Homo sapiens: one gene and its partners. The protein of the gene in region 3 purifies or fractionates together with the protein of the main gene of each other region. This does not show direct contact. Each region holds a gene or a part of one and is shown on either strand. Other genes may lie near its edges.

Region 1 (4,035 bases), on a different chromosome or scaffold from region 3:
CTCATCAGTCAGATGGAGTTAGTGCCCCACCCGGGGATGTGGGGAAGAACACATGAGAGGTGTGACAGGCTCTGTGAACTCTCAGGACCCACCAGTGCTCCCAGAAATCTTACAGAAACCCCAGGGCCTCTGCCTCAGGACAAGCATCTGCCTAGCAGACTCTAAGGTCCAAAGGTCTCATCTCTTGGGGATGCAGAGGGAAGACCTGGCTGCGAAGAACTGGCCAATGCTGCCACGTACAAGGATTTAAGACTAGTGCATCCCTAAAGAGCCTCAAGCTTGTAAAAGTTGGATCCACGAAGGCTGGGCACACAGAATTCGGGGTGGTCTACACGGTGTAGACACTTGTGGTCCACACGGTGTAGACACTTGTGGTCCACATCCAGGGGGAGAGGTCAGGCAGACATGAGGACTGCAGAAGATGTCACGATGACGCTGGCCGTGACAGTGAGCTCCCCGGTCTGTGGGTGTGGCTGGACAGATGGGGGTGAGGGCTGGGAAGAAGGACTAATGCCTAGAACTACACCTGGAAATTCAGCCATCCATCCACACAACACACACATACATTAAGGACCTGCTCTGTACTGACCTGGTCCCAAACCCAGAGCTAGAGAGGAATAAATAAGCCACAGTCCCTGTCCCCACAGAGCACATGATCCAGTGCAGAAAGCACTTGGCAGATGCTGGAACATAATGTGAAGAGATCCCACAGAGGATCCACTGGAAGCCACTGTGCCAGGCACGGGGAGGGCCGGGGAGGCTCCACAGAGGAACCAGAAAGCTGTGATGTGGAGGAAGGTCTGCGGGCCAAGTGGGGCCAGGGCACTTCCCAGAGGGAAAGGGGTTCAGGTTTGGGTTGGACCTAATGGACTGAGGCTGCTGAAGACGTGACATCAAGGCGGGAAGAAAGTAAAGCTGCAAAGTACTCCCATGGCCCCTGGGCATTTTCTTTTTAAAGAAACAAACACACGAGCTGCTGTATGCTTAGCAGCTAGCCGGTGGCAGATGTGAGCTGCCATCACTCACGGCTCCAAACTTTGGCCCAGGAGCTGCCATAAAGGCCTGGGCATTTGTACTGAGGTAGAAAGGGAGACACCTGCATTGCAGTGCCCTTTGTAACAGAAGGCCAAGACTGGGTCCACCTGACTCCCTAACCCTGCTGCAGAGAGGGGCTTTCTAGTCCCCACAGGCCGCTGCAAACGGCCATTCCACGCAGCCCCTTCCTGGCAAGAGTGATGGTTGGGCAGGGCAGAGGAGTGATCCCCTGCTGGCTCTGGTTTCAGAGCGGGGCGGTGCTGGGAGCCCATGCGGCGTCAGATTACAGCCTGACTCAGCACATCCTGAGGAGGCCAGGACAGTGAGGTCTGGGATGGAGGTGGGGGGAAGGGCCACCTTGCAAAGGTGCGAAGAGGCAGGTTTCATACATACAGGGTGGATGTAAATGGACACAAACTAGGTCAGTGGTCCCTAACAGTGCCCTTGGAAGAAAGGGAAGCACCCACCTCCCCAGGATATACACGTTCACACTTGCACTTCCAGAGACAAAACTGTCCAACTGTCCACCAAAAGAAGATCCATCCTTGGGACACCTCAGAGGAGCCCCCGGCTGACATGGCCACATGACCTATGGTACCTTCACCCTACAGAACACCATGAAGGAGCCAAAAAGAAATCCGAGGAGCGCCACGTGCAGAAGCAGAAAGAGCTCTGGGGGCGAGGGAGGCGGCAGAGCAGCACGGTGGCATGGGGCACTCGCTCCAGACCAGCCCTCCTGCCCACAGGCCTGGCTCCACAGTAAGCCAGCTAGGTGTCCCTGGGCAAGAAGGTTAACATCTCTGTGCCTCAGCTGCCTCCTCTGTAGGGTGTGGATAGTAAAAGCACCTACCTCACAGGGCATGGCAAATATCTTTCAAGTGCTCAGCCTAGTACCTGAGACACAGTATGGGCTCATCAAATGTCAGTGATGCATGCCACAAGGGGTGACACTTGTGAAAAAAAACAAAATAATACCATGTTCTGTATGAGAGTTTATGGGAATAGAGATGCTTGAGTACACACCCAGAAGACAATGTGGAAAGAAACATGTCGCACTTAAAATGCTGGTTACCTGGGTGGTTAGGAGGTATTATTTTAACTTCTCACCCAGAAAATGAGCACGTATAATGACATAATGAAAATCAGTTTCAAAACAAAGGAGGAAGAGCATAAGAGCTGATGGATATGTCATCCAGTTCCCCTCAGCCCCCCTGGGCCTCAAACCCCCTCCCCCCATAGGCCTGGAACATACTTCTCTGGCTTGGGCCCTTGGGACGGCAGACTGAGCCCAGCTTTACCTGGTGAATGATTCCAGATCCAGGCTTCCAGAAGCCCACGCCATATTTGGCACCTGCAGTTGCCAGGAAATTATAAACTTCCTGGTTGATGTCCTATTGAGACAAATCAATAATTGGGCGTTAGCAACATGGTTTGTGTCCAGGTGACCCTCACCAAGCCCTCCCCACCCCATCAGCCTCCCTTCTGACTCTGAAATACTGGCACTGGAGACAGGCCCTCTCTTAGAGACCTTCTAAAAATAATTCCAAAGAGCTTGGATGTTGGCCCAGTCTCCACTAGCAGTGTCAGAGAGAAGGACAGGGGAGCAGAGATGGAGCCCCAGTTCTGTGACACCTGGCCAGGGTGGTGGGTCTGGAACAAGTCCCTGCCCTGGTCTGGGTCTCAGTTTCCTTATCTGGAGAAGGGACTGGTCTAAATAATTGCCAAGAGTGCCTGTGGCACTCAAGTCCCCAGATGAGGCCAGCAGTGCAGAGGCAGGCCCTGGCCTAGGCGCAGTGGCTGGGTGCAGTGGCTCACGCCTGTAATCCCAACACTTTGGGAGGCTGAGGCAGGCAGATCACTTGAGGTCAGGAGTTCAAGACCAGCCTGGCCAACATGGCGAAACCCTGTCTCTACTAAAAATACAAAAATTAGCCAGGCATGGTAGTGCACACCTGTAATTCCAGTTACTCGGGAGGCTGAGGCACAAGAATTGGTTGAACCTGGGAGACAAGGATGCAATGAGCCGAGATCGTGCCACTGCACTCCAGCCTACAAGACAGAGCGAGACTGTCTCAAAAAATAAAAATAAGAATAAAATAAATAAAAATTAGCTGTGCACCTGCGGTCCCAGCTACTTGCAGGCCGAGGCAGGAAGATCACTTGAGCCCAGGAGTTCAAGGCTGCAATGAGCCGAGATCGCACCACTACACTCCAGCCTGAGTGACAGGGCAAGACCCTGCCTCAAAACAAAACAAAAACCCCAGAGGCTTTTTTTGAAATAACTTGCTGGAGATCCCAGGCTTAGACGACACCTGAGAGAGCCCCCTGGACTGGTGTCTGACTGTCGGAAGTGCTGAATTCTTGGTAATGTGTTTGATGGGCCCAAATGGAAGGCTGTCGAAGGGACCACTGTTCTGAAAAGGAGGTTTCAGCCAAACGAAATGATGACACGGGCTGTAGCCATCCTGCCTATAATCTGAAGGAAGCTTCCTTGAGGGACAGGGAAGGGCCCACTGCACAGCAGATGTGAGGCCAGGGTTTATCTGGAAGACATGGGAGGTCCCTGTGTGGGGTCAGTGAGACTGACCCCAGTAACAAAACGGTGGGATTCTAGTGGACTCTACTGAGTCTCAAAGGAGGAACTAGGAAATGGGACCTGCCAGCCTCCGGCATGGGAGAGCGATGCTTCAGAGAAGGGACCTCAGCCAGTGCCCTCGGACCCTTGATGAGATACACTCAAACCACACACCCCTTCACTGAAACTCCAGACCAGTGTGTGCCCTCTGAAGGCCCACTGGGTTCCCCCAGGTAAGAGAATGGCAAAGAACGTGGGTTTCCAGAGCAGTCTCTTTCCAATTAATAATTAATACATCAGCTTTTTCATTTACAAATCGGTCACTTATGAAATTGGTATCCAGGACAGGAGGCTGTGGTCGTGTCTGGGCGCATGTGACTACACGTCTGTGTTAAGTGTGAGGAAGGGGTGTGGGAGGACCCCAG
Region 2 (4,035 bases), on a different chromosome or scaffold from region 3:
AATTTTTACCATCTTGATAACAGTTTAGGAGTAAAGTGTATACTGATAACAGGTTTAGAAAAACATTCACTAATAATTCTATTAATTCAGCTCTTAGCAGCCTCAACAGGATGTATCATCTTTGAAATCGTCTTAAAAAAGAACATAAAGACATAGCAACAAAATACTCCCTCTCTGTGTGTCTATATCTCCCTCCCCTCTCAATCACACACACACACACATCCCCACCCACCCACGTACACACATCCCCCCACCCACCCACATACACACATCCCCCCACCCACCCACATACACACACACCCTCAACCCACACACTCCAACCCACCTACACACACCCCACCACCCACCCACCCACACATACACACACACCCCCACCACCCACCTACCCACACACACCCCCTCCACCCACCCACCCACACACATGCACACACATACACACACCCCCCACACACACAGTGGGTACACATGTGATTCTGAATGCAGTCATAAAGCACAATTATCTTGAATTGGACTGTTCTAACAAGTGCTTCATGTAGCTCAAGTCAACTTTACAAAGGGGAAAAATGGAGTCTGACTTTCCTGTCTGGACAGCAGCAGGAAATAGATGATGTCTCTGAAAGACAGGCTTATCTCATTCCATTTAGTCTCTTGGCATGTGTCATTCATGCTGCTGCTACTGAAGATCATGGAAGTTGAAATGATTTCTTAAGTTACTGAAGACTGTTTTCAGAAAGGTGGAACCACAGAGACATGATCATGAAGATAAAACTATCTGAAGAGTCTATTTGGGAATCAGATTTTTTTCTGAGTTTCTAACTGCCTTTTAAGATATGCAGAACTATCAGTTTCATAGTTCCATTGTAACATTTTAAACTATTACAAAAGTGAAGTTTTTTTCCCTTTTCTCCTGATTTTAAATATAAGGTAACTAACTCCAAGGAAGATGAGGCAGCTCGCCCCAGGTCCCAGTGAAATCAGTGATAGAGCTCTCTCCATACACAGCTAGGTCTCACTCCTGAAATTTTCTATACTATGCCATGGTTGTTTCCCAACTGATGACATGCCAGAACATCTTTAACTCTGCCCCAATTTTAGTATTTTCACTTATATTATCTGAAGCTTTTGTTCAAATCGTTGATGTAAATTGAAATTCTTTGTGAAGCCTGGGCCCTTTTTTTTCTATCTAAACGTTCTTTAAATTGCAATATGAACAGAAAATTAGATTTGGAAATGACTCCCACCAAAGCACGAAGGCTGCTCTGGCAGGCAAGTAATGGGAGATTGTTCACAGCCTCACAAGGGACACATGAATACTACCAGCATAGTCATTAATGCCAACTGAGATTCAAAGAGAACATGTCATACAGTGCCAGAACTAGAAATGGGCTTGTTCTTATGGATGAAATGTCATGTAACAATCATTTTTTTCAAATCATAGAGTGAGCTGCTAAGTAACTCTCAGAGGAGTTCTATTGTTCTCCACTGGTTTGTTCTGGAGTCAGTACTTCTCACCAAGATATTAGGCAATTACCAGGAAAAGCAGGAAAATAAGCACTGTAGGCATATTTTCTCCCCCAAGATTTCTAAAAAGAGTCACATTTAATGTTTTAAGATTAAGAATATATTATGAAAAGTACTACAGGGATGTTTTATTCCTCTGTGATAACTTTCATATATACTGGTGGGTTGTTTGTTTTTGTTTTTTGAACCAATGCTCACTTTCTTGAGGTACTTTCTCTTTAAAATTTTGTTCAAGACTGCAAGTGTGTAAACTCATAGAAAAGATTTGGACGAGGCCAGGCACAGTGGCTAAAGTCTGTAATCCCAGCACTTTGGGAGACCAAGGCCAGAGGACTGCTTGAGCCCAGGAGTTCAAGACCAGCCTGGGCAACACAGGGAGACCCTGTCTCTTAAAAATAAAAAATTAGCCAGGTATGGCAGTAAATGCCTGTAGTCCTAGCTACTTGGGAGGCTGAGGCTGGAGGATTACTTGAGCCCAGGAGCTCAAGGCTACAGAGTAAGCTGTGATCGTGCCACTGCACTCCAGCCTCGGTGACAGAGGCAGACCGTGTCTCAAAAAAAAAAAAAAAAGAAAAAGAAAAAAGGAAAAGATTTGGAAGAATAAAGACCAAACCTAAAATAAATTATCTCTCTGAAGGGGAAGTTGATGACTAGGGGGTAGGGATGGTACAGACTCATTATCACGTACTACTTGCTTAGTTTTAGTTGCCCTAAGAAGCATTTTTTATATTTACTGGAGACCTATGATTGTTAAAGACCAAAAAATATAAGCTTCAATTTTAAGTGCTCTCTACCATTGATTTTACATAAAGCCCTAGGTAATAAACATATATCTTCTTTGATATTTTCTAATTATAAGGCCCTGAATGCCTACCTCCCATGCGCCACTTTTTATATATATAAACACTTAACATATACACTTACACATATTTCCACATACACACTTTAACATATATATACAAATCTGCAAATATCAATCAACCTATAGGAATAATGCCTTTAAAAAATCTGCAAATGAAAAGAAACAGACAACTCTGAAATAGCTATAATGGGTTTACTTCCTTTTCTGACCCAGATTCCCATGTTTATGGCACTATTACTGGTATGTATCACAATTAAAGCACTGTATTAAACTATTCAATGACAGCTTTTTCAAAGAATGGCAGTCAACTCACTTGCTCCAAGCCAAAAATGGAATAGGAGAAATTCATGTATTTTAGGACACAGTAAGGGTGTGTGCCTGGTGGCACACTCTATTTTTAGGAGTTATATTGGGAAACTTGCTTTGTGTACACATGTATAAAAAAAAAACAGTAATAGAAGGGTAACTACATGACTTATTTCATTCTTACATCTCTGCCCAACATGAATAAGGTAATGTCTTCCCAAGAGCTTGTAGTTTTAACTCACTATTCCCAAAGGCTTATTTCTACATTTATATACATAACTAAAGGGGTTCCTTGATGACTTTATGGCTTATGTTCAATAAATTTTAAAGTCTGTAAAATTTCAAATATATGCACTAGCAGTAAGTAAAAATGTATTTTAAGGGAATGACAGAAATCTGAGTACACTAACCTAGAACTTGGAATGGAATTATAGCTCTCAGGTAACTATCAGCATGTGATGCTCAGAGGGATAACATAGATTAATTCTGCCACTTTATCAAGTGATAGGCTGTCAATATCTTTTCCTGGACACTGTTCATGACTTGATATATAATATGGTTTAAATTTCTGTCCTTGCCCAAATCTCATATCAAATTGTAATTTTCAATGGTGGAAGAGGGGCCTTGTGGGAGGTGACTGGATCACAAGGGCAGACTTCCCTTGCTGTTCCTGTGACAGAGAGTGAGTTCTCACAAGATCTGGTTGTTTAAAAATATGTAACACCTCCCCCTTCTCTCTTCTTCCTTCTCCGGCCATGAAAGACATGTCTGCTTCCCCTTTGACTTCTATCATACTTGTAAGTCTCCTGAGGCCTCCCCAGACAAGTTTCCTGTACAACCTGCAGAACTGCCAGTCAATTAAACCTCTTTTCTTTATGAATTACCCAGTCTCAGGTAGTTCTTTATAGCAATGTGAGAACAGACTAATAGTTTTAAAAATCAGTATAATAGCAAATCATGTTGTGACACTTGCATCAAGAGGAATCCACTGCCAAACCCTAGTTTTTCCCATTAATACAACTATTCTTTTTTTTTTTTTTAATTTATTTTTTTATTGATAATTCTTGGGTGTTTCTCACAGAGGGGGATTTGGCAGGGTCATGGGACAATAGTGGAGGGAAGGTCAGCAGATAAACAAGTGAACAAAGGTCTCTGGTTTTCCTAGGCAGAGGACCCTGCGGCCTTCCGCAGTGTTTGTCCCTGATTACTTGAGATTAGGGAGTGGTGATGACTCTTAACGAGCATGCTGCCTTCAAGCATCTGTTTAGCAAAGCACATCTTGCACCACCCTTAATCCATTTAACCCTGAGTGGACACAGCACACGTTTCAGAGAGCACAGGGTTGG
Region 3 (4,035 bases):
ACCTGCCTGTTCTTGACAGCAGCTGACGGTTTATCAAAATTAAACTTAGCTGCTTCTTTAATTTTTAGATGAATAGGTGTAATAGGCAGCTGGCATCAAGGCCAAACGTTGGCACCCTTCTTAATGACTATGCTCTTTTCCATTTTTAAGAAAGTTGATTACCAGTTTAAATATTTAAGGAAATACCCAATTGCTTCCTATAGAGTGAAGTGAGAAACTCCTAATAATAATAAAAGACTACTCTTCATAAGTTGAATATTAAAATGAATCCTGCGGATCCACAAGTAACTGTTTACACATGGTTAATCTCTCTCACACTTTAGTTTTCAAAAACTGCAATATGCAGTGGTAGTTCTTACAAATATCACTTGAAATTAACTCAGAATCAGAGAGCTACTCCTGAAAATTAGAAAATCACATCCAAGAATGAATTTTAATGATAATCATTATTTCATATGTGATAGACGGTGGTGATTCCATCTGGGGCAGAAAATGCTGACTGCAAAGTTATATGGCAGAGTAACACTAGGAACTGGGAGTTAGGAGGCTATCTTACAAAGTCAGTTTACACGCATCTAATGCTCCACCAAAAAAACCCATACAAACAAATTCATATTCCAAAGTATCAACCCAGAAAGAGTACAGAAATGATACTTTAAAATTCCCTTCCAGAACTTTCAAAAGGTATTTTTCAAAATTCATCACATTCAGAACACTGGGCATTACTCCTGATTTGGACACTAAATTACGAGAGCAGCATAATCATAGTTTTCTTTCTTTTTATTTTTCCTGGTAGAACCTCACTACAGTAGCTTCAGAATCTGATATGAGTTCCAACTCTGTCTCTTACCTACTAGACTCTGTGATCTTGGGCAAGTTACACCACCTCTGAGAGTCACAATTTCTTCATATTCTCTAATTTAGAGAATGGCGTTAAGTCGAGATAAGATGATCTGAGCTGAAAGCACGGAAATCAGTAGACCCTCACTAGAGGAAAAGCAAGGCACGGGGCAGAGTGGGCAAGGCACAGGCTTAAGGATCAGTAGATCTGGTTTGCTAGCCTGTAAATGTAGCCTCAGACAAATCTGTTAATCTTTTAGCCTCAGTTTCCTCATCTGTAAAATGGGAATATACTCTACGCCTCACATATTATGAAGATTCCATGATATCTAAGGAATGAAATGAATTGAGCTCCCAGCATAGTACCAGGTACAGTGTGGACATTCTCTCCATACCAACATGCTCCACCACCCACCCTTCACAGTAATGCTTTTCTGAGAAAGGCAACAGAAAAAGCATAGGAAAATAAAGCAGGAAAAAGTGATTAAGTATACCCTAAAGTAATGAAAACGCCATTCAGGCCAGGTGCGGTGGCTCACACCTGTAATCCCAGCACTTTGGGAGGCCAAGGCTGGTGCATCACCTGAGGTCAGGAGTTCAAGACCAGCCTGGCCAACATGGTGAAACCCTGTCCCTACTAAAAATAAAAAAAATTAGCCAGGCATGGTGCCAGGTGCCTGCAATCCCAGCTCCTTGGGAGGCTGAGGCAGGAGAATCGCTTGAACCCGGGAGGCAGGGGTGGCAGTGAGCCGAGATTGCCCCCTGCACTTCAGCCTAGGCAGCAGAGTAACACTCTCTCAAAAAAAAAAAAATATATATATATATACCATTTATTGAGTTAAGGATTACTGAGTTTCATACTCTTTAAGCGTTTTACAAAAATAATCTTATTTAATCTTTACAAAAATCTGACAAGGCAGGTACAATTATCCCTACTTTACATAAGATGAAGAAACTAAGGCTCAGAAGGGTTAAGTAACTTACCGAAACTCACAGTGACAGCGCAGTGAAACCAGGATTTATATCCAGGCTTCCAGGAGTACAAAAGCCCAGACTCTTAACCACATGCTACCTGAGTCCCTCACCAGAGGTGGCCTCTACCCTCTAGCTGCCATCTCACTCCTGCCCAGGAGCTACAAGTGCACTGCACACATATCTGCAATATATGGGACTGTTTTATGCCTTTAACATTTACATATACAAATGGTATTATGCCATAATTACGTGTTTGCAACTTGCTTTTTGACTAAATATTGTATTTTTGAGATTCAGCCATGTTAAATACATCTAGATCTAGTTCATTTTAACTACAGTTTAGCTTTCCATCATGTGACTAAAGTTTATTTATCTGGTCTGCTGCTAATAGACCAAGATCCCTTCCTGTCAGTTTTTCATTATTGCAAGCCATGCTGCAATGAACGCGCCAACACAGGTATCCTAACACAGAGGTCCCCAACCTTTTTGGCACCAGGGACTGGTTTTGTGGAAGACAATTTTTCCACGGACCAGGGAAGGGTGGGGATAGCTTCGGGATGAAACGGTTCCACCTCACATCATCAGGCATTAGTTACATTCTCGTAAGGAACGCACAACCTAGATTCCTCACATGTGCAGTTCACAATAGAGTTTGTGCTCCTATGAGAACCTAATGTCGTCACTGATGTGGCAGGAGGCGGAGCTCAGGCGGTAAAGCTCACTTACCCACCGCTTACCTCCTGCTGTAAGTCCTCGATCCCTGGCCTGGGGGTTGGGGACCCATGTCCTAACACACACATGCAGAAGTCAGTCTCTAGGCCAGGGACAGATAAACTATGGTCTTCAGGCCAAATCCAGTCTACTTCGTAATTAAAGCTGTATTTTCATAAATAAAGTTTTATTGAAACTCAGCCTGCTCATTCATCTACATATTGCCCATGACTGACTTCAGGCTATATAACAGCAGAGTTGAATAGATGCAACAAAAACCACACAGCCCACAAAGCCTGACGTACTTAGTCTCTGGCCCTTTACTAGGGTAAGTTTGCAGATCCCCCTCTCTAGAATATATACCTAGGAGTCACGCAGCTGGGTCTTAGGCTCTGTTCACCCATAGCTTGACTGGGTACTGATAGTTACTCCTCCAAAGTGTTGGTACCATTTTATACTCCCATCTGCAGCATACATGTGCACCACACAAGCACATACACACAACTTGTTATCCAACTTTTAAGGTTCACCAGCATGACATGTTTCACTACTGTCTTCAATTCCCTGATACTGAAAAGGTGGAGCGTATTTTCAAATGCTTAATAAACATTCAACAACAGGATATGGTTATTTATTCAACAAATCATTTGAGTCCCTATTCTGTCACTGTTCCAGATGCAAGGACTACAATGATGATCTAAATCGGCAGCAAATGTTTATAATGCCTTTAAGGCCGCAGAGTTTGCAATATAATGATAAATAAAAGCAGTATTTATTTATTTATTAAAATGCTCACTGAAAGCTTGCTTTGCATAAGCGGTACACACAGCACCACAGGCAGTGGCATAAGACATATTCCCTCGTCTCTGGAGGGCAAAATACTATGTATAGACAAGCATGGTCTCAATGTGTTAAAAAAAAAAAAACTGTTAGGAACTAGATCTAAATGTTAATACAATAGTTTCCATAAATTACAGGTGATTTTCCTTCTTTAAACTTTTCAGTGTTTTCTACATTGCTTCCATGAGCATAAGTTCCTTTATTAAGACCAGGATTAGGAAATGATGATGTCAGTCTACTGGGACCTGATCCCTTTGTGACTGTCTTCTGTGTGCACTCCAGATAAAAAGAGAAGGACAAGAAGGTCTTGAGAAGGCCAGAACACAATGCTGCCTCATAGTCACCTTTGTTCCTTGGGTCACAGTCTCAAGATGTGTCTGTATCACACTCCTGGGAACCCAGTACTCAAAACTAGGAAAGAATGTTTTCCTCCGGTTTAGGCACTTTGTAAAGTTCAGGTCTCCTTGGCATAAGAACCAACAAAAGGCCAGTTTTGCAAGAGCTCCGTTCCTATTACTAGAAATGACCTTGGATCTGGTGTACAAACATAGTTTCGGCTGGCAAAAGCAAGCATCGGACAGCCCGTTAGTTGCTCTTGGTAAATAAAGCTGTATAGGGAAGAGGGGAAGAGTCTTAATAACCTGGCTGAACTAATCCCCATTTGGGGAA
Region 4 (4,035 bases), on a different chromosome or scaffold from region 3:
TCCCCTCCTCACAGAGGAGGAGACCACAGCCAGCGCCAGTGGCTCTGTCTGCTCCGAACATCTCCAGGGCTCCCTGTCTAGGCCCCAAAACACAGCACTTGGCTATAGGGCTTCCTCCAAATGTAGGGAGATATCCAGGCTTCCCCCCCTTTGGAATCTCTCCCCCACCAGTGGCCCACTCTTGGCCTTTCAGGCCTCTAGAACTGCCTTTGGATTGGACTACCCTTCCAGGTCAGCAGAGAAGCCCAATGTCCCCATCTCACTAAAACCTGGCAGGCACTTCCACAGAAACTCCGGGGTGCACACAGGGCTCCAAATGCCACCTCTTCTTTACCCCAAATCCTACAGCTCTGTGGGCTGCCCGGGTCTAATGGAAACCACACAGAGCACACCCTCCACTAAGTGCTGGGTAGTGAGAGTGTGCAGCTCTCCCTCTGCAAACCCCAGTTTCCTTGTCTGAGCTCTCTTCCAGCTCCCATGCTGGAGTCCCATGAGTAAGGGCTGTGCTCCCTTCTCCACTACCAGGTGAACCAAAGGTCACAGTGGCCTGTGATACCCCCTCCCCACCCTGCAGCTTCTCGGAGGTGCTGGCTGCCCCTGGGAGCCCCGTTTTGGGAGGCCCCACTTACTGCTCCTGAGAGGCCGGGGCCCAGCTCCATACAGAGGCCTCATGTGGCCAGCCAAGTCCCTCTCCTCTCTGGCCACCATTGTTCCCAAGGTAGAAATAACCTCAGGCCAGCTCAGTAAGGGCACTGTGATCAGACTCTTCCCTGAAGGGACTGCCAGGTGCACAGCAGACTCACATGTGGACTCATTTTTATTACTTGGCTGTGGGGAAGAACAAAACTGCTTCATGGCTACACTATTTTGCAAAGGAAAGAAAAAGAGGACTGCTTCCCCTGGAGCAGAGCCACAACAGCTTCTGTTCTTGTATTCATCATCTGTCCCTGCGTAGGGTGAGAAGGGCAGGAGAACATCTGGACAAGGCCAGGCCAGTGGTTTAGACAAGAGCGTCACAGCACTGAGGTGGCAGCAGTGACAAGTGGGGCGGGCAGCTCCCAGCAGAGAAGGACAGCCCTCAAGGTCACCGGGATGTGGCTCTGCTGAGCTGTGCCTTGCAGCCAGCTGCCTACAAGGAGAGACAGGTGGGGCAGAGATGGGGCTGACCACAGGCCCCTTGAAACTCCCTGGTCCCAGCCAGGGCTCAGGGCCAGGGGCAGATGGGGAGGGCAGGGGAAGCTGCCAGGCCAGAGAGGAGGAGCTGCCCAGCCTGACTGAGGAGTCACACTTCCTACCCCGCCCCACACCCCAAGACGCTGCTGCTCAAGCAACCCCAAATAAAAACCACCCCATAACTAAGGGCCGTGGAGCCTCGGCATACCAACGACTGGCTTCTGAGTGCAGCCACACCCTTCCTCTGCAGCCAGAGTAGACCTCCCCAGCAGTGCCACAGGCCTCCCATGCCAGCTCTGGGGCCGAGCAGGAGCCAAGGCCAGGGGCTCAAGTGACCACAGCTGTTTCCCGAGGGGCAGAGTCACACCCAGAAGCCAACAGAGAGAAGGCTGTGGGGTCACGCACCATCTGCCCACCAACTGTCTGCCCAGGCTGTCTGTGGGCTACGGGATAGATGGAAGCCCTCAAAGACCATCCCAGCCTTAGGCTAATGGGATGCATGTCCCCTCAGGTGCCTCCCAGTGCCCCCAAACCCACCCACCTAAGGAGGTCTCAGAACACCATGACCAGCCAGGCAGAAGGCTCTCATCTCAGACCTACATCTTTCACAGCCTCAGCTCTCCGAGCTCCCTTGCCAAGTGGCACAGTCTAAGCAGGGGCTGAACGGAGCCTCTTGCAGGCCACAATTCATGGTCACAACAGTTTTAGTCTTTGTGATGAAAAAAGACAAACTGATCCCAACCCAAGCTGAACCCACAGCCTTTGCTTTCCCAAGAGGCCAGCTTCTAACCATTGATCCAACAGGCCCAGGATGACGATCCTGTCTGCCACACTCCAGGCCTTACCGCAGGGACCATTTCACCCTTATCAGGATGAGGGAGAAGGTGGACAGGGGCTCCATATAACACAGTTGTGCTCTCTCCTCCTCTCCTAAAACACACAAAGACCAGCATTCCAGGGGGCAAAGACCAGGTCTCCCCAACCAAAATGGCCTTGTGGCAGATGCCCTGTCTTCTTACTCCAAAACCTTTGCTGCTGCTTCCTTCCTTCCCTCTTCTGATATATCCAGGTCCATTCCCTGGGGGTGTGATCCACACCAATCGCATAAAGACCAAAAAGGTCCAAATGACCCATCTGACCCCACAGGGAACAAGGAAAACTAACTAACCACCACATCCCATCCCTGTCTTGGGAGTTAGGGAGGCAAACACAGGACACCCACTGGGGAGTGCTAAGAAGGACGTTGGGCCAGGCGTGGTGGCTCATGCCTGTAATCCCAGCACTTTGGGAGGCCAAGACAGGTGGATCACCTGAGGTCAGGAGTTTGAGAACAGCCTGGCCAACATGGCAAAACCCAGTCTCTACTAAAAATACAAAAATTAGCTGGGTGTGGTGGCACATGCCTGTAATCCCAGCTACTCAGGGGACTGAGGCAGGAGAATCGCTTGAACCTGGGAGGGAGAGATTGCAAGTGAGCCCAGATTCTGCCACTGCACTCCAACTTGGGCAACAGAGTGAGACACTGTCTCAAAAAAGAAAAAAAAAAGGATGTTGAAGATAAAAACCAGAAAATAAATCGCAGAGAAGCATCCAGGATTTCCAGACCAACAGGAACATGACGATCCATGGACAGTTCTACTGAGGGTGGGGAGATCATTAGTTTCCTTGTGTACTACCATTACATTTTGTTTTGAGAATATCCTCTTCAATTATTTGGAAGCCTCTGGTGAAATTCCTCATTTCAAAGACTGCCCCACTCACACAAGACCTTCGGAGGCTGCTGAAGCACCTACAACCCCAGCCACCACCATCACACAAAATGGGGCCCCAGAGTCACCACCACGCTAATATTTTGAGAGCTTCTATGTATCCAGAACTACATTAAGGCTTTTACAGATGGTGTCTTATCTAATCTGTACAACTCTATGATTATTATCATGACCTTTTTCAAAGTGAGGAAGTGGGATAAGTAACCTGTCTGCTGGTAAGTCACAGAACGGGGAGTGAAATCCCAGTCTCCAGGTTTTTAAGCCCTGGGCCATCCTTCCTTCCCAACAGGGCAGGGGCAGCTCCAGGCAGGGCTGCCAGGGAGGAGAGCTGCAGAGCTGCGGGCTTATCTGAGCCTGGTTTCAGGACTGCAGAGGCCTCTCAAGCCCAGCCCTATTTCTTGGGCCTCTTGCAGCAAATAGAATACAGAGAGCTGCAAAGGGCCAGCTCATTTTGTTGGGAACTCTCGTACTCTTCTGTGTACTCCGTCACCCATGGTCCTAAGGCTTTCCTAGGCTCTAAGTTCTAGACTGTCTCCCCCATCCCATAAGAAGCTCTTCCAGACATTGTTACTAAAATCTCCCTTCACCATCACTGCTCTGCACTGACCACCTACCATGTACAGGGACTGTACTAGGTGCTTAAGCTGCATTTTCATTTCATCCCTCACATCAACCATATGAAGGTATAAATTATCTCCATTTTACAGACGTGAAAACTGAGGCACCAAGAGTTTATATGACTTGCCACAGGTGGCAGTTTTGGGACTGGGATCTGTCCAGTGCCACTCTGTAGCCCCTTCCTAACCATAAGGGTACCTTCCCCAGTCAGGTCCTCTCTTGGCAAAGGGCCACCACCTGCCCTACCTGAGACCACCACAGCCAACTCCTGGAGTTAAAGAATGGATACTTTTCATTTCCACCATTATCCAAAGCTGAGGAGGGTACACCCTGGTCTTCTCTGCCTTGCCCTCTCCCTACCAGGCAGCGTTCAGACTCAGTCTTGGTAGCCCACACCAGGGTGCTCCAGGAAATACCACCAGGAATGACCACTACAGCCAGAGGTGGGGACCACAGCGGGGGTGACAGCCCTCCC
Region 5 (4,035 bases), on a different chromosome or scaffold from region 3:
TTGTGAGGCTTACAGGACAGTGGGGAGACTGATTGCAGACAGGTAACTGGATAGCCACTATTCCTGGTTGTGATAGGCACTCAGAAGGGGATAGACAGGCTGTATTCCTCCTATTCAGGAGGTCAGGGAGGAGAACGTTGGTCAGAGCTGGGATGGATCCTGGACCAGGACAGCAGAAGGGAATCCACTGGGAGAGATGTTCAAGATGCAGAATGGACCCGACACGCAGCTGAGAGGCTGTGGGAGAAGGGGAACAGCTGGGCTGAGGCCCCCGTCTCTAGCCAGGGGACAGGTGTGGGGCCAGGTGCTGGGTTCAGGTTTGGATGTGCTGAGTGTGAGAGGTCTAGGAGACATCTGGAGCGTGTTGACCCCCGCAAGTCTGGTGAGTCCTCCAGCTTAGCCTGTCCCGGCCCCTCACAGCTGTCCCTTCTAGAATCACAGCCCTGTGATTCATCCCCACCTGGGCCTTGTTTCCTGAACCCCACATCTGACCGCTGGCCCGAGGGAGAATGCCGTCGGCCCCTGCTCTGAAAGCCCTGAAAGCCCATGCCTGCGTGCACACACGCGTGCACACACACACACACCCTCTTGATTTGATTTCCTGTGGCCTGGGTATGTGCCCACTCCCATTGGCACACCTAGACCCACCTGCTGGCCCAGATCCCCATGCTTGGTCTGCACTGAGACACTTGCATTTCCACGCTGGGAACCTCACCCAGGAAGGCTAGAGGATCTGGAACCCTCACCCCTCACCACTCTCTGGCCACTGTGCTAGGTGTCCCTGACATGAAGGAGGCAGTGACAGTTACGGGCCCAGCTCTGGGCCACCACCAGGTCTGGCGAGTGTCATTGTCAGGATGATGCTGTCCTTCCTGTGTTACAGAGGGGCCTTGGGGCAGGCTGTCATTGCTCAGGCAGCAGGTGGCGGAGCCCCGGGGGGACCCCAGATCAGCCTGACCCTAAGACCTCAGTGTGGGAGGGGTCTCCACAGCCTGGACCCCAGGAACCCACAAGCCCAGGGCCTAAGTCACAGCTGTAACAGTAACTGCAGCAGCTGACAGTGACAGTGACAGTGACTTCTCGGGCCCTAAGCTTGCACCTCAGGTCTTCCCTCCAGCTCCAGCAGAGCTCCCCAAGCCTTCCTGCCACCCCACCCCTTTGAAGATGAAAAATGTGTAGTGGCTGGGCTCAGTGGCTGTCTCCTGTCGTCCCAGTACTTTGGGAGGCTGAGGCAGGATGATTGCTTGAGCCCAGGAGTTCAAGACCTGCTTTGGCAACATAGCAAGACCCAGTCTCTACCAAAAAACAATTTAAAAACAGCCAGGCATGGTGGGGCATCTATAGTTCTAGCGGCTCCAGAGGCTGAGGCAGGAGAATTGCTTGAGTCTAGGTGTTCGAGGTTGCAGTGAACTGTGATGGAGCCGCTGCCTTCCATCCTGGACCACAGAGTGAGAGCCCATCTGTTAAATAAATAAATAAATAAGATGGAATATGGCAAGACCCCATCTCTACCCAAAAAAAATAAAATTAGCCAGGCATGGTGGCATGCACCTGTTGTCCTAGCTACTCAGGAGGCTGAGGTGGGAAGATGACTCGAGCCTGGGAGGCAGAGGTTGCAGTGAGCTGAGATTGTTCCACAGCACTCCAGCCTGGGCAACAGAACGAGATCCTGTCTCAGAAAAAGAAAAAATAAATTGTGTGCCCTCTAGTGCATTTTCAAGTTGACAAGTAAAACTTTTCTTCATTAACCTTAAGTAGTTGTGAAGGATGGAATTTCTGGTTCTGGTGTGTTATGATACTGACATGTTCAAACAGCTGGTGCATCCTTCCCTTCATATTTATTGCAGTTCGCATACAATAATGATTTGATGCCTACCAATGTCTGGTTTAAAGATATATATATATAGGCCAGGCATAGTGGCTCACGATTGCAATCCCAGCACTTTGGGAGGCCGAGGCAGCCAGATCACTTGAGCCCAGGAGTTCAAGACCAGCCTAGGCAACATACTGATAAACCCCATCTCTATTTTAAAAAAAATACAAAAATGACTAGGCACGGTGGCTCACGCCTGTAATCCCAACACTTTGGGAGGCCGAGGTGGGTGGATCACGAGGTCAGGAGATCGAGACCATCCTGGCTAACACGGTGAAACCCCATCTCTACTAAAAATATAAAAAAATTAGCTGGGCGTGGTAGCGGGCGCCTGTAGTCCCAGCTACTCAGGAGGCTGAGGCAGGACAATGGTGTGAACCCGGGTGGCGGAGCTTGCAGTGAGCCGAGATCGCGCCACTGCACTCCAGCCTGGGCGACAGAGTGTGACTCCATCTCAAAAAAAAAAAAAATATTAGCCAGGCATACCTGTAGTCCCAGTTACTCAAGGGACTGAGGTGGGAGGATCATTTGAGCCTGGAAGGTCGAGGCTGCAGTGAGCCATGATTGCGCCACTACACTCCAGCCGGGGCGACAAAGCAAGACCCCGTCTCGAAAATAATACAAATAAAAACAAGCTCTTCTTTTTCAGTCAGAAATTTCACATGGTTTCTTTTTGTTCATGTACTTTTGTATTTACAGTCCACATACCCACAGAATTCCATCTAGTGATTTATATGTCGGCAACCAAAATACATACAGAAATTTACATGTTAATTTCCTGTGACCATAAGGTTCTAAATGCTAAGTTATTTTCTTCTGGATTGAGTTAATTTTGAAATTATTAGTGCGCAGTTACTTTAAAATGTTCATCTTTTGGATGGACATGGTGGCTCATGGCTGTAATCCCAGCAGTTTGAGAGGCCAACGCAGGTGGATCACGAGGTCAGATGATCGAGACCAGCCTGGCCAACGTGGTGAAACCCCTTCTCTACTAAAAATACGAAAAATTAGACGGGCATGGTGGCGCGTGCCTGTAGTCCCAGCTACTCAGGAGACTGAGGCAGGGGAATTGCTTGAACCTGGGAGGAGGAGGTTGCAGTGAGCCAAGACTGTGCCACTGCACTCCAGCCTGGCAACAGAGTGAGACTCCGTCTCTAAAACAACAACAACAAAAAGTTCATCTTTTATACATTTTCATGAATAATTACTAAACCTTAAAAGTAAAAGGAGATGTTGCAAATGAGTCTGCAAAGGCACCACACAAGGGTTCCCTCTGTGGTTTCATGTGCCCTTGGATGAATATTAATTGTTGCAGGAGTGAGTCAGGATGCAGCATCAATTCTGCATTGGTTTTAAAGACTCAAGTGCTGAGAACCTTCCTTCATAAAGAAGCAGCTAGGCAAGGAAGGAGTTTTTGTTCCAGCAGCACCACTCACCTCTTGAGCTCCCACCAAGGTATGTGCCCAAAACCTCACTGTGAAGAGCTCGCAGCTCTTAGCTGCACCTTCAGGGCTGATGAAATTCTAGGATTGGAGCCATCAGACTTGCAAAAATGATTGATTATTACAAGTGTATCTAAGTGTTCAGAGGCACTTAGCATCGACTGCCACCTTAAGCTGCCCTTTGGAGCCAGGAGCCCCCCTCTCCCCCATCTGTAGCCCCAACTTTGCATTTTGGGAAAATAAGGCAAGAAAGGAGGTTGGTCTTTCTCCTGGGAAGTGGGTGGGGCGACAGTGCCAGGGCAGGACAGCCAGGATGGCAGTGGCTTAAGGGAGGAACACAGGGAACTAAGCATCTGGCAACTGGACCTTTACACCGTCCATGAACTTGGCGCTGTGGAAGCTCCTGGTGTCCCTCTTGGGGCGCGGCCCCTCAAGTCCGAGGACCTCCCTTCTGGGGCAGTGTTTCTTATTCCTGGCTGCTCGCTAGAATCATCTGGTCTTTTAAAAGACCCCTGGGTTACCCAGGCTAGGTGACTGCATTCCCTGGGTGAGAGGGGTGGGGCTTGCAGGGGGCTCCCAGAGCGCAGCCTGACCCCTCTCTTCCCCCGCAGTGTATCACTGGGTGGAGATGCGGACCAAGATGCGCATCATGGGCTTCCGGGGCACGGTCATCAAGCCGCTGAACGAGGAGGCGGCAGCTGAGCTGGGCGCAGAGCTGCT
Region 6 (4,035 bases), on a different chromosome or scaffold from region 3:
TCTTGTTCTGTAAAATATCTGTTGTGATCATGTACTTGGATGTACTGTTGTTTGTTGTAGGGAATCACGCTCGCTTCTAGCCAGGCTGTCAGCAACGCCAGGAAGCTGGAGTGGCCACTGACGGAAGTTGCAGAAGGTGTTTTTGAAACCGAGGCCCCGGGAGGATATAAGTTCTATTTGCAGAATCGCAGTCTGCCTCAGTCAGGTAATTATACCAGAACCAGTAAAAGCCTCTGTCTAAAGGCATCTTTGGTGAAAGGAGAGTGAGGGCTGCCTGTCTTTTTTTTGTAGAGTCTGTGTTCACGTGACGTGTCTTCCCCAGCCAGTGCTTTTACCTGTTATCGGAGAGACTACATTCTCATATCAGAACTTAAATACATAGCAGTAGGGGATCTAGACTAGTTCTGTTCTACTGGTAATGTAGTGATTTATGATTCTTTCATCTGTAAATAACAGAAAACCCAACTACTTTGAACAGTTATAGAATCTTTTAGCTCACAGAGCAGGCATTCTATAGGTGGGAAAGATTTCAAGGTTAGATGATTCACCAGCTCCCCACATTTTCTCTTTCTACGTTCTGTTGTTCTCTGCGGGTACCTCTCCTAGAACTAGTCCCCTCAAGGTTGCAGGAGAGCTGCCAGGAGCAGGTGGGGCCACATGCTCCCACAATCCCATCTGGTAGGAGAGGAGATGCTGACTTCTTTTTGCTTTTTTTTTTTGAGACTCTGTCAGTCCGGCTGGAGTGTACTGGCATGATCTCTGCTCACTGCAACCTCTGCCTCCCGGGTTCAAGCAATTCTCCTTCCTCAGCCTCCCAAGTAGCTGGGATTATAGGCGCCTGCCACCACGCTCAGCTTTTTTTTTTTTTTTTTTAGTATTTTTATTAACTTTTAAAAATTATTTGTTTTTTGAGACGGAGTCTTGCTCTGTCGCCCAGGCTAGAGTGCAGTGCTGCAATCTCGGCTCACTTGCAACCTCCGCCTCCCAGGTTCAAGTGATTCTCCTGCCTCAGCCTCTCCAGTAGCTGAGATTACAGGCACATGCCACCACGCCCAGCTCATTTTTGTATTTTTAGTAGAGACAGGGTTTCACTATATTGTCCAGGCTGGTCTTGAACTTCTGACCTCACTTGATCCGCCTGCCTCAGCCTCCCAAAGTGCTGGGGTGACAGGCGTGAACCACCGTGCCCGGCCCTTTTTGCTTTCTTTTTAGGAGCAGAAGAAAAACTTTCCTAGAATCTTCCAGCAAACTTCCTGTTCAGATTTGATATACTGTGCCTGCTCCTAAACCAATCACTGGCAAGAGAAATAGGATCACCCCCAAACCATTTAGCCATGCCTCCTCTGGAGCCGAGGTCAGTTTCCCAGACTTGAGCGTGGGTACTCAGGGATGGCATGGAAGTGAGGAGCCCCCACGCTGACTGCCACACAGAACAAGAAGGAAACTTTGCAGGGTTTGTTTTGTTGACTGCAGAGGCAGCCTCATCAGTGTTTCATTTTGTATTTAATGCCTGCAAATTCAGCTACCTGCTCTGACAAAACAAAAGCAAAAACGGGGAAAATGCTGGCGAATGGCAAGGGCACTTGTGCCGACTCCCTTACTTGGTGAACGTATGCCTGCAAGTGGGCCTGAGAAGGGAGTCCTGGAAATTCTCCTTCTTCACTGGTCGGCCTCCTGTCCCCGATGCCCCCATGCTGAGTCTGTAGAATGTTCAGTGCTCCTTGTTTATCATCCGGTGCTCAGCAAAAGAAAGATCCGTCTGTTCCAGTGTGGGAGGCTAGACTTGGCTGTGTGGGACTCGTGGAGAGATGGTGTTTCTCTGCCTCACTGGTGATTTAAAGGGTGTTGATGGTGTTTTTTTGTTGATAGGTGATTGATCCTTTGCTGACTTTAAAACTTAACGCTTGCAGCTAGCTCCACCATCCATTTTTTCTCTCCAGCCTTAGTGATATTTCAGTGCTTAAAATAATAGAGAGCCCCATGGTGCTAAGAAGCTTTTGTTCTTTGGAATGGAAATCCCCTTGGGCATTTCTGGTTGACAATGTGGTCAGACCTTCTGTCCGGCTGGCATTCATCTTTCCTTTGAATTACCCACTTCTGTGCAGCTTCACCCACGCGTTAACTTCCTGTCCTGCGTCCCTTCAGGCTCCAAGTCAACTGGGATTTGTTGATTTTGAAGTAAATGGAAAGAAAAAAATGGAGCCTGCCAGGCGGAGGCACTTGTGAGAAACAGCGTCTTAATCCCAATATTGCTGTTCTAGCAAACAGGACTAAGGCAGTAAAGCCAAAGAAAAATGTACTGAATTTATCGTAGTCAGATGGAGACGTGGAACAGCTCTTTAGAAAGTCACTTTACAATGTGAAAAGTTTCCAGTAACAGTAGGTGTTTCAATATGACTTTTATTCTTTTTACAAAATAATCAAGTTTTTTCCTTAGACAAGCAGAGAAGCTGAAAAAAAACACACACACCCATGTACCCAGAGAGAACCACTGCTGACATTTTAGAGTATATCTTTCCAATCTTTTGTCAAAAATACGTATATATAATTAAGTGTATACATTTCTGTATATCCTTTTTTAGGAGTTCCATCGTATTATTACATTGTAGGAAGAGAAACAATTCTCTATTGTTGGATATTTATGTCGTTCCTAGTGTTTTATTGTTCTAAGCAACACTGGTGAATGTCTTTGTCGTAAAAGCCCTTCATACATCCACAATTACCTTTGGAGTGGCTGAAAATGGACTTGTTCTTTCAAAAGCAATGAGCACTTTTTAAAGCTTTTGGTACATTCCATCAAACTATTGCCCAGAAATGTACTGATTTACACTTGTATTACATGATTGTGATTTTCCCCTCTACACTAACACAGTTAACACTGCCAACTTTTAACATTATTTGCACATTAGTTAACAAAGGATTTTATGTGAATTCTAATTTCTTTGTTGTTTGGGGGCGTCGGGTTGAAATTTTTTTTTTTTTTTTGAGACAGAGTCTCGCTCTGTCGCCCAGGCTAGAGTGCAGTGGCGCGCTCTGGGCTCACTGCAAGCTCCGCCTCCCGGGTTCACGCCATTCTCCTGCCTCAGCCTCCTGAGTAGCTGGGACCACAGGCGCCCGCCAGCACGCCCGGCTAATTTTTTGTATTTTTAGTAGAGACGGGGTTTCACCGTGTTAGCCAGGATGGTCTCTATCTCCTGACCTCATGATCCTGCCACCTCAGCCTCCCAAAGTGCTGGGATTACAGGCGTGAGCCACCGCGCCCGGCCTGAATATTTTTTCGTATGTTATTTGACCATTCTAATTCCTTGTTTTGTGGATTATTGCTTTGTGCCTTTTGCCTATTTTTCTAGCATGTTCATTCTTTTCCTATTGATATTTACAGGTGATTTACATATTAAGGACTTTTTGTCCAATATATTGCAGTTGTTCCCCCTACTGTGTTGTATACTCTAGTTTTGATTGTAATTCCTTTTCTTGGTTGTTGTCTAGGAGTTTTCCATTTTGTGTAATTTATGTAGCAGAAGTTTTTTCTTCATAGTTTTTCTATCTTTGGTGTCAGGTTTAAAGAAAAATCTTCCTCTACTCCAAAATTGTATAAATAATCATCTGTATCTAGTATTTTCATGGTTTCATTCTCTAAACTTATTTTTTTAACCCATCAGGAATGTATTTTGTCATTTATTTCGAAGATGTAAGTTTTTCTTACCAAATGATTAGCCAGTCTTCTTAGCGCCGTCCATTGAATAATGAGGCTTTTCATACTGTCTTTGTTTTTTTTTTTTTTTTTTTTTTCGAGATAGGGTCTCACTGTCACCCAGGCTGGAGTGCAGTAGTGCAGTCTTGGCTCACTGCAGCCTCAACCTCCCGGGCTCAAGCGATCCTCCTGCTTCCATCTCTGAAGTGGCTGGGAATACACACATGAGCCACCACGCCTGTCTAATCTTTTTTTTTTTTTTTTTTTTTTTTGAGACAGAGTTTTGCTCTTGTCTCCCAGGCTAGAGTGCAACGGCGCCATCTCGGCTCACTGCAACCTCC
Region 7 (4,825 bases), on a different chromosome or scaffold from region 3:
GGGGATCTATGTTTTGTTTTTGTTTTGTTTTGTTGAGACAGGATCTCCCTCTGTCATCCAAGCTTGAGTGCAGTGGCATGTTCTCAGGTCACTGCAACTCCCGCCTCGCGGGTTCAAGTGATTCTCCCACCTCAGCCTCCCAAGTAGCTGGGATTACAGGCATGTCCCACCACGCCCGGCTAATTTTTTGTATTTTTAGTAGAGACCGGGTTTCCCCATGTTGGCCAGGTCTTGAACTCCTGGCCTCAAGTGATCCGCCCACCTCAGCCTCCCAAAGTGCTGGGATAACCAGCGTGAGCCACCGTACCCGGCCAAGGGAGCTCTGTTTTAAAGGACAACCTGTTACCTGGGATAAGAACAATTTGGAGAAAAAAAAATCTATAAGACTATAACCTCTGATTCTCACAACCACCGTTGTCATACCAATAAATTTCCACAACTCCTCAAAAAGAACCTTCAAACTGTCAAATAACTTCAAACTGATTTGATGTTGAGCTTTCAAAACCTAAGGTGTTTATTTCACCTTTGAAGCCTTTCTCATAAGGAGTTCTCAAAAATACCTCACTCCAGATCTGCTCATCTCAACTCAAAAAGTATTTTCTATTCTAATAAACTATCTTAGCTGTTCCCTTCACAGGATGGAGCCAAGGCTATCTGCTCCGCCTTTAAAATCAAACTGTAGGATTTGCTCTTAAAAAAAAACAACAAAAGTCTCATTGAAAATTTATTAATAAGTGACCATGTTGAAAGCTGTCCTATCATGGTTTGTCATCCTGTCTGATAAATAGTAAAATTATACAAAAGACTTGAGGTGAGGAACCACCTCTGAATGAATCAAGGAAACCAAGAAAAGAAAACCTAAGAAAGTGTCAAAAAATGAACTTAGCCAGACCACGCTCAAGAACAAATTTACAAATTTAGAATAAAATCAAACTCATCATGGCAAACAAAATCCTATACAGTCTTATGTAATCAAAATCCTATATAATTCCCGCCTGCCCACTTCTCAGATCTCAACTCTGGCCACTGTCCCTCTCTTCTTTCCAGCCTCCTTGGCCTAACAGTCTTCCGTCTCCATAAAGCGGTTTTCTCAAGCTGAAATGTTCTTGCCTCTGCTCTTGGGATCCTATTTGTCATTTAGATCTCAATTTCAGTGTCTCTCCTCAGAGACGGTTTCCCTATTTAAAGTAGCCACTCCCTAGGCTAGCACATCACTCTATATTCTCAGCAATTACCACCAGCATCGGATATTTGTTAAATTGTCTCCTCCGACTAGGATGTAAATCCCAAAGGAGTAGGTACTTTGCCATCTTGCTCATTTCTGTATCCACACCATGTAAAACTGTCAGGCACCTAATGTACTTAAATAAATATAAGTTGAATATTTATTTTGTTCGAGCCCAACTGAGTTCCAGCCTTTAAATAATCCATATGTAATATGAAATTAGAAAATCTACCAAGACTAAATATATATACACACACAGAAACATAACTGACGGTGGAAAACTGGTGTCAAGTGAGGCAGAATCAGCTCTGAAAGGGGCAGGTATAACCTTGACTTGTAAAATTGATAATCCTTTGTCCTAGTCTTATTTACGGAAACACCTCTACCAAAGAAAAAAAAAGTCTGGGCGCGATGGTGCACACCTGTAGTCCCAGCATTTTGGGAGGCCGAGATGGGTGGAACACTTGAGCCCAAGAGTTTAAGACCAGTCTGGGCAACAAGGCAAGACCCCATCTCTCTAAAAATAAAAATAATTAGCTGGGTGTGGTGGCGAGCACCTGTAGTCCCAGCTACTCGAGAAGCTGAGGCGGGAGCATCACTTGAGCCCCGGAGGTGACGCCGGCGGTGAGCTGTGATTGCACCACTGCACTCTAGCCTGGGCAACAGAGCAGGACCCCATCAATCAATCAAACAAATATTAAGGCATAAGGAGCATGCCTTTCCCTATCTTCATCTTATCCTTTTAGGATAAGTTCAGCTTCTTTTCTTCGAACATAAACTCCAATAAAGCCTAAAAACCAAACACGAAAATTTCTGGTAGACTATCCCTGTACTGCTGTCTTGAAAACAATCAAGACCAGGTGGTGCTTTCTGGAGAGCTCGCAAATCCCAGCTGTGCAAGTGCGCACAGGTGATTTTCCAAACAAACTCCGGCTCCCAGCCCTCTGCCGCACTCAGCTCCCTTTGCAAGTTCCAGGGCATTCAGTGGGAAGTACCGAGGCCACCGTCAGCTGAACAGTTTGTTTTGAAAAAGCTCTCAGGCCTACCCAGGACCTGCCTTGGGGTAGGGGGGGCGGTGTGGGCGTTCCCTCGGGCCTCGGCTGTCACGCGAACAGTAAATTCCCGGGCACACCAGGTCAGTTGGCCAGCGTAAACACATGAATCCCATCTCATTCAAAGCAAACCCGAAAGGTGTCCAGCGCTCCCAAAATAAAGTCCGCCACTTACACCCCCCATGCACGAAAGACCAGGAATGTGCCCCCCTCTATGAGCGGCCGGGCCTCTGTGGACTGAGCGACCCCAGGCAAGAGGGAGGCCTGGGAGGCAGGGAGCTCACCCGCAAGGGGCTTCCTTCCACCCGACGCCGACACGCCCGCCCTAGCCCCGGGCCAAGGGTGCACGAACCACGCCTCGCCGCACTCAAGGTCCCGGTTGGGCCCTGCTGCGCGGTTAGAACCGGGAAATGGAGGGCTCAGACGCCCCGCGCGAGCAGGCCCAGCCGCGCTTCCCCACCTGCCGCCACCGCCGCTGAGCCGGCCCGTGGGCGCGGCCGCTCTCACCTGCAGGAGCGGGGGCGCGCGGGATCCGCCTTCAAGGTGCCCACGGGCGGTGCGGGTCACGTGCCGCGCAGGTGAGGCTGGCGGGGCGGGCGCCGGCGGAGACCCAGAGCAGAGGGAACAGGCCCCGCCCCCGAACGCCCGCGGGGACCCAGAGCGGAGGGAACAGGCCCCGCCCCCCGAACGCCCGCTGTGACCCAGAGCGGAGGGAGTAGGCCCCGCCCCGCGAAAGCCTGTGGAGACCCAGGGCGGAGGGAACAGGCCCCGCCCCCGGGACCGGCCCCTGAGGCGGCGCATGCGCGCTCTTCCGCCCGGACTGCGAGTTCCTCCCCAGCTTCTGGCTCCTAGGGTCAAGGCGATTTCAGGCTTGGAAAGGGACTTCCGTCGCAAATCTTTCTGTTTTTGCTAAAGCTGCGGTCGCAAGGCCTAGTGATCGCCTGAAACGTCGTTTTAAAGGGGCGTTGCATGGAATGTTCGGCCATCCCTGCTGAAAGTTTTTACCTCTTTCTCCAGTTCTCCACCCTGCACTGTGTACTCCGAGGCCGGTCTCCCAGATTGGCCTTCTCTATTTCGGCCACCCTGGGCGGTCCGTGACTTGGCGTCTTCTGCCCTCGCCTCCTCATTCGGGTTCCCCTAGGGGTCTCTCCCGGGCAGGCTGCCTGCCCCGGGCCCCAGCCCTGCCGTTGGGTGGGTATCCTGAGCTCACTGGAACCCCGGGCGCCTTTTCTTCAGCCTTTCCCAGTGCGTCCCACTGGCTCACGGTAGACTGGTTTCCACGTGTCATTGACTACAAAGTGGCCCTGCCAGTGCTTTTTGAGATAAAAATTATCCAGAAAAAAAAAAGTTCCTGAGCAAATTACCACTTGTTAACTAAATGCACAACATAGTGTGGGACTATGTTCAGATGAAAATCAAAGATACAGAGAGCTTTTATTTTTAATCCATGAGGAAACATTAAAAATATATCAGCCTGTGGAGACCGAAGTTACATTTGAAGAGTAATGACCTAAAATGCTCACATTTAAAGATGAAATTGAGACCGTGGGAAACTATTTGCAATGAAAAAGATTAAGGGGAAAGGGAAGATTAAAAATTAGGATTTTGTGAAGTTCTTGTTAATTTTTTAAAATTAGCGGAGTGCATCATGATTGAGACTTTGAACACCAAATTCCATTCCAAAGTATTGCCAAAACAGTATTTTTCTAAAAACAAGTTTTTGATTGTATAAATAATAGAGCTCTCTGTAGGAAACACAGAATATATAACAGGAAAATAAATAGTCAATAATTACACCCCTCAGAGATCACCCACTCAGAGATAACATTTTCTCTCAGTCTTTCAGAAAAACTAATTTTACAAAAAGTCCTGGAAACTGCCTTTTTAAACAAACTTGTGTCATGAGCTGTTCCCATGTCTAAAATTTCATTAGCTTTTTTTTCTACATAATGGTCTACATATAAACATACCATAAATTATTTAACATTTTCCCTGTTGCTGGATGGTTTCAACAATTTTGATCTTAGTGTAGATAATGCTGGATTAAATATCTTTGTACCTAAATCTTTTTCTTTTAGCCTCAATATATTACCACGTTATGTACATAAATCTTTTTCCATATTTATGAATATGTACTTAGGATAAAAATTGAAATGGAGGCCAGGTGCGGTGGCTCACGCCTGTAATCCCAGCACTTTGGGAGGCCAAGCTGGGTGGATCACCTGAGGTCAGGAGTTCAAGACCAGCCTGGCCAACGTGGTGAAACCCCATCTCTACTAAAAATAGAAAAAAATTAGCCAGGCATGGTGGCACGCACCTGTAATCCCAGCTACTCAGGAGGCTGAGACAGGAGAATCTCTTGAACCCAGGAGGCTGAGGTTGCAGTGGGCAGAGATCTCCCCATTCCACTTCCAGTCTGGGGGATAGAGTGAGACTTTGTCTCACAAAAGAAAAAAAAGGAAATGGAATCACTGGGCATAAAGGTGTAGACAGTTTTAATAAGTATTACCATACTGCTCTTCAGAGAGGTTGTACAGTTTACACTCTC

The links.
Region 1: the proteins of GLRX5 (region 3) and ACO2 fractionate together in Homo sapiens (co-fractionation; one large-scale study listed by BioGRID). This does not show direct contact.
Region 2: the proteins of GLRX5 (region 3) and CLIC4 fractionate together in Homo sapiens (co-fractionation; one large-scale study listed by BioGRID). This does not show direct contact.
Region 4: the proteins of GLRX5 (region 3) and RAB11FIP5 fractionate together in Homo sapiens (co-fractionation; one large-scale study listed by BioGRID). This does not show direct contact.
Region 5: the proteins of GLRX5 (region 3) and OPA3 purify together in Homo sapiens (co-immunoprecipitation; one large-scale study listed by IntAct). This does not show direct contact.
Region 6: the proteins of GLRX5 (region 3) and GLOD4 fractionate together in Homo sapiens (co-fractionation; one large-scale study listed by BioGRID). This does not show direct contact.
Region 7: the proteins of GLRX5 (region 3) and WDSUB1 fractionate together in Homo sapiens (co-fractionation; one large-scale study listed by BioGRID). This does not show direct contact.

Annotation. Positions count from the first base shown.
Region 1 is NC_000022.11:41,510,267-41,514,301, reverse strand, and holds part of ACO2 (aconitate hydratase, mitochondrial precursor), read right to left. Parts: intron 2,427-4,035; coding exon 2,334-2,426; intron 1-2,333. UniProt on the Homo sapiens protein: Catalyzes the isomerization of citrate to isocitrate via cis-aconitate.
Region 2 is NC_000001.11:24,800,768-24,804,802, reverse strand, and holds part of CLIC4 (chloride intracellular channel protein 4), read right to left. Parts: intron 1-4,035. UniProt on the Homo sapiens protein: In the soluble state, catalyzes glutaredoxin-like thiol disulfide exchange reactions with reduced glutathione as electron donor. Can insert into membranes and form voltage-dependent multi-ion conductive channels.
Region 3 is NC_000014.9:95,537,515-95,541,549, reverse strand, and holds part of GLRX5 (glutaredoxin-related protein 5, mitochondrial precursor), read right to left. Parts: intron 1-4,035.
Region 4 is NC_000002.12:73,106,343-73,110,377, forward strand, and holds part of RAB11FIP5 (rab11 family-interacting protein 5), read right to left. Parts: intron 1-4,035. UniProt on the Homo sapiens protein: Rab effector involved in protein trafficking from apical recycling endosomes to the apical plasma membrane. Involved in insulin granule exocytosis. May regulate V-ATPase intracellular transport in response to extracellular acidosis.
Region 5 is NC_000019.10:45,553,803-45,557,837, reverse strand, and holds part of OPA3 (optic atrophy 3 protein), read left to right. Parts: intron 1-3,188; exon of another isoform or gene 3,189-3,328; intron 3,329-3,926; coding exon 3,927-4,035. UniProt on the Homo sapiens protein: May play some role in mitochondrial processes.
Region 6 is NC_000017.11:771,945-775,979, reverse strand, and holds part of GLOD4 (glyoxalase domain-containing protein 4), read left to right. Parts: intron 1-60; coding exon 61-205; intron 206-4,035.
Region 7 is NC_000002.12:159,283,799-159,288,623, forward strand, and holds the start of WDSUB1 (WD repeat, SAM and U-box domain-containing protein 1), read right to left. Parts: upstream 2,906-4,825; 5' UTR 2,785-2,905; exon of another isoform or gene 2,562-2,784; intron 1-2,561.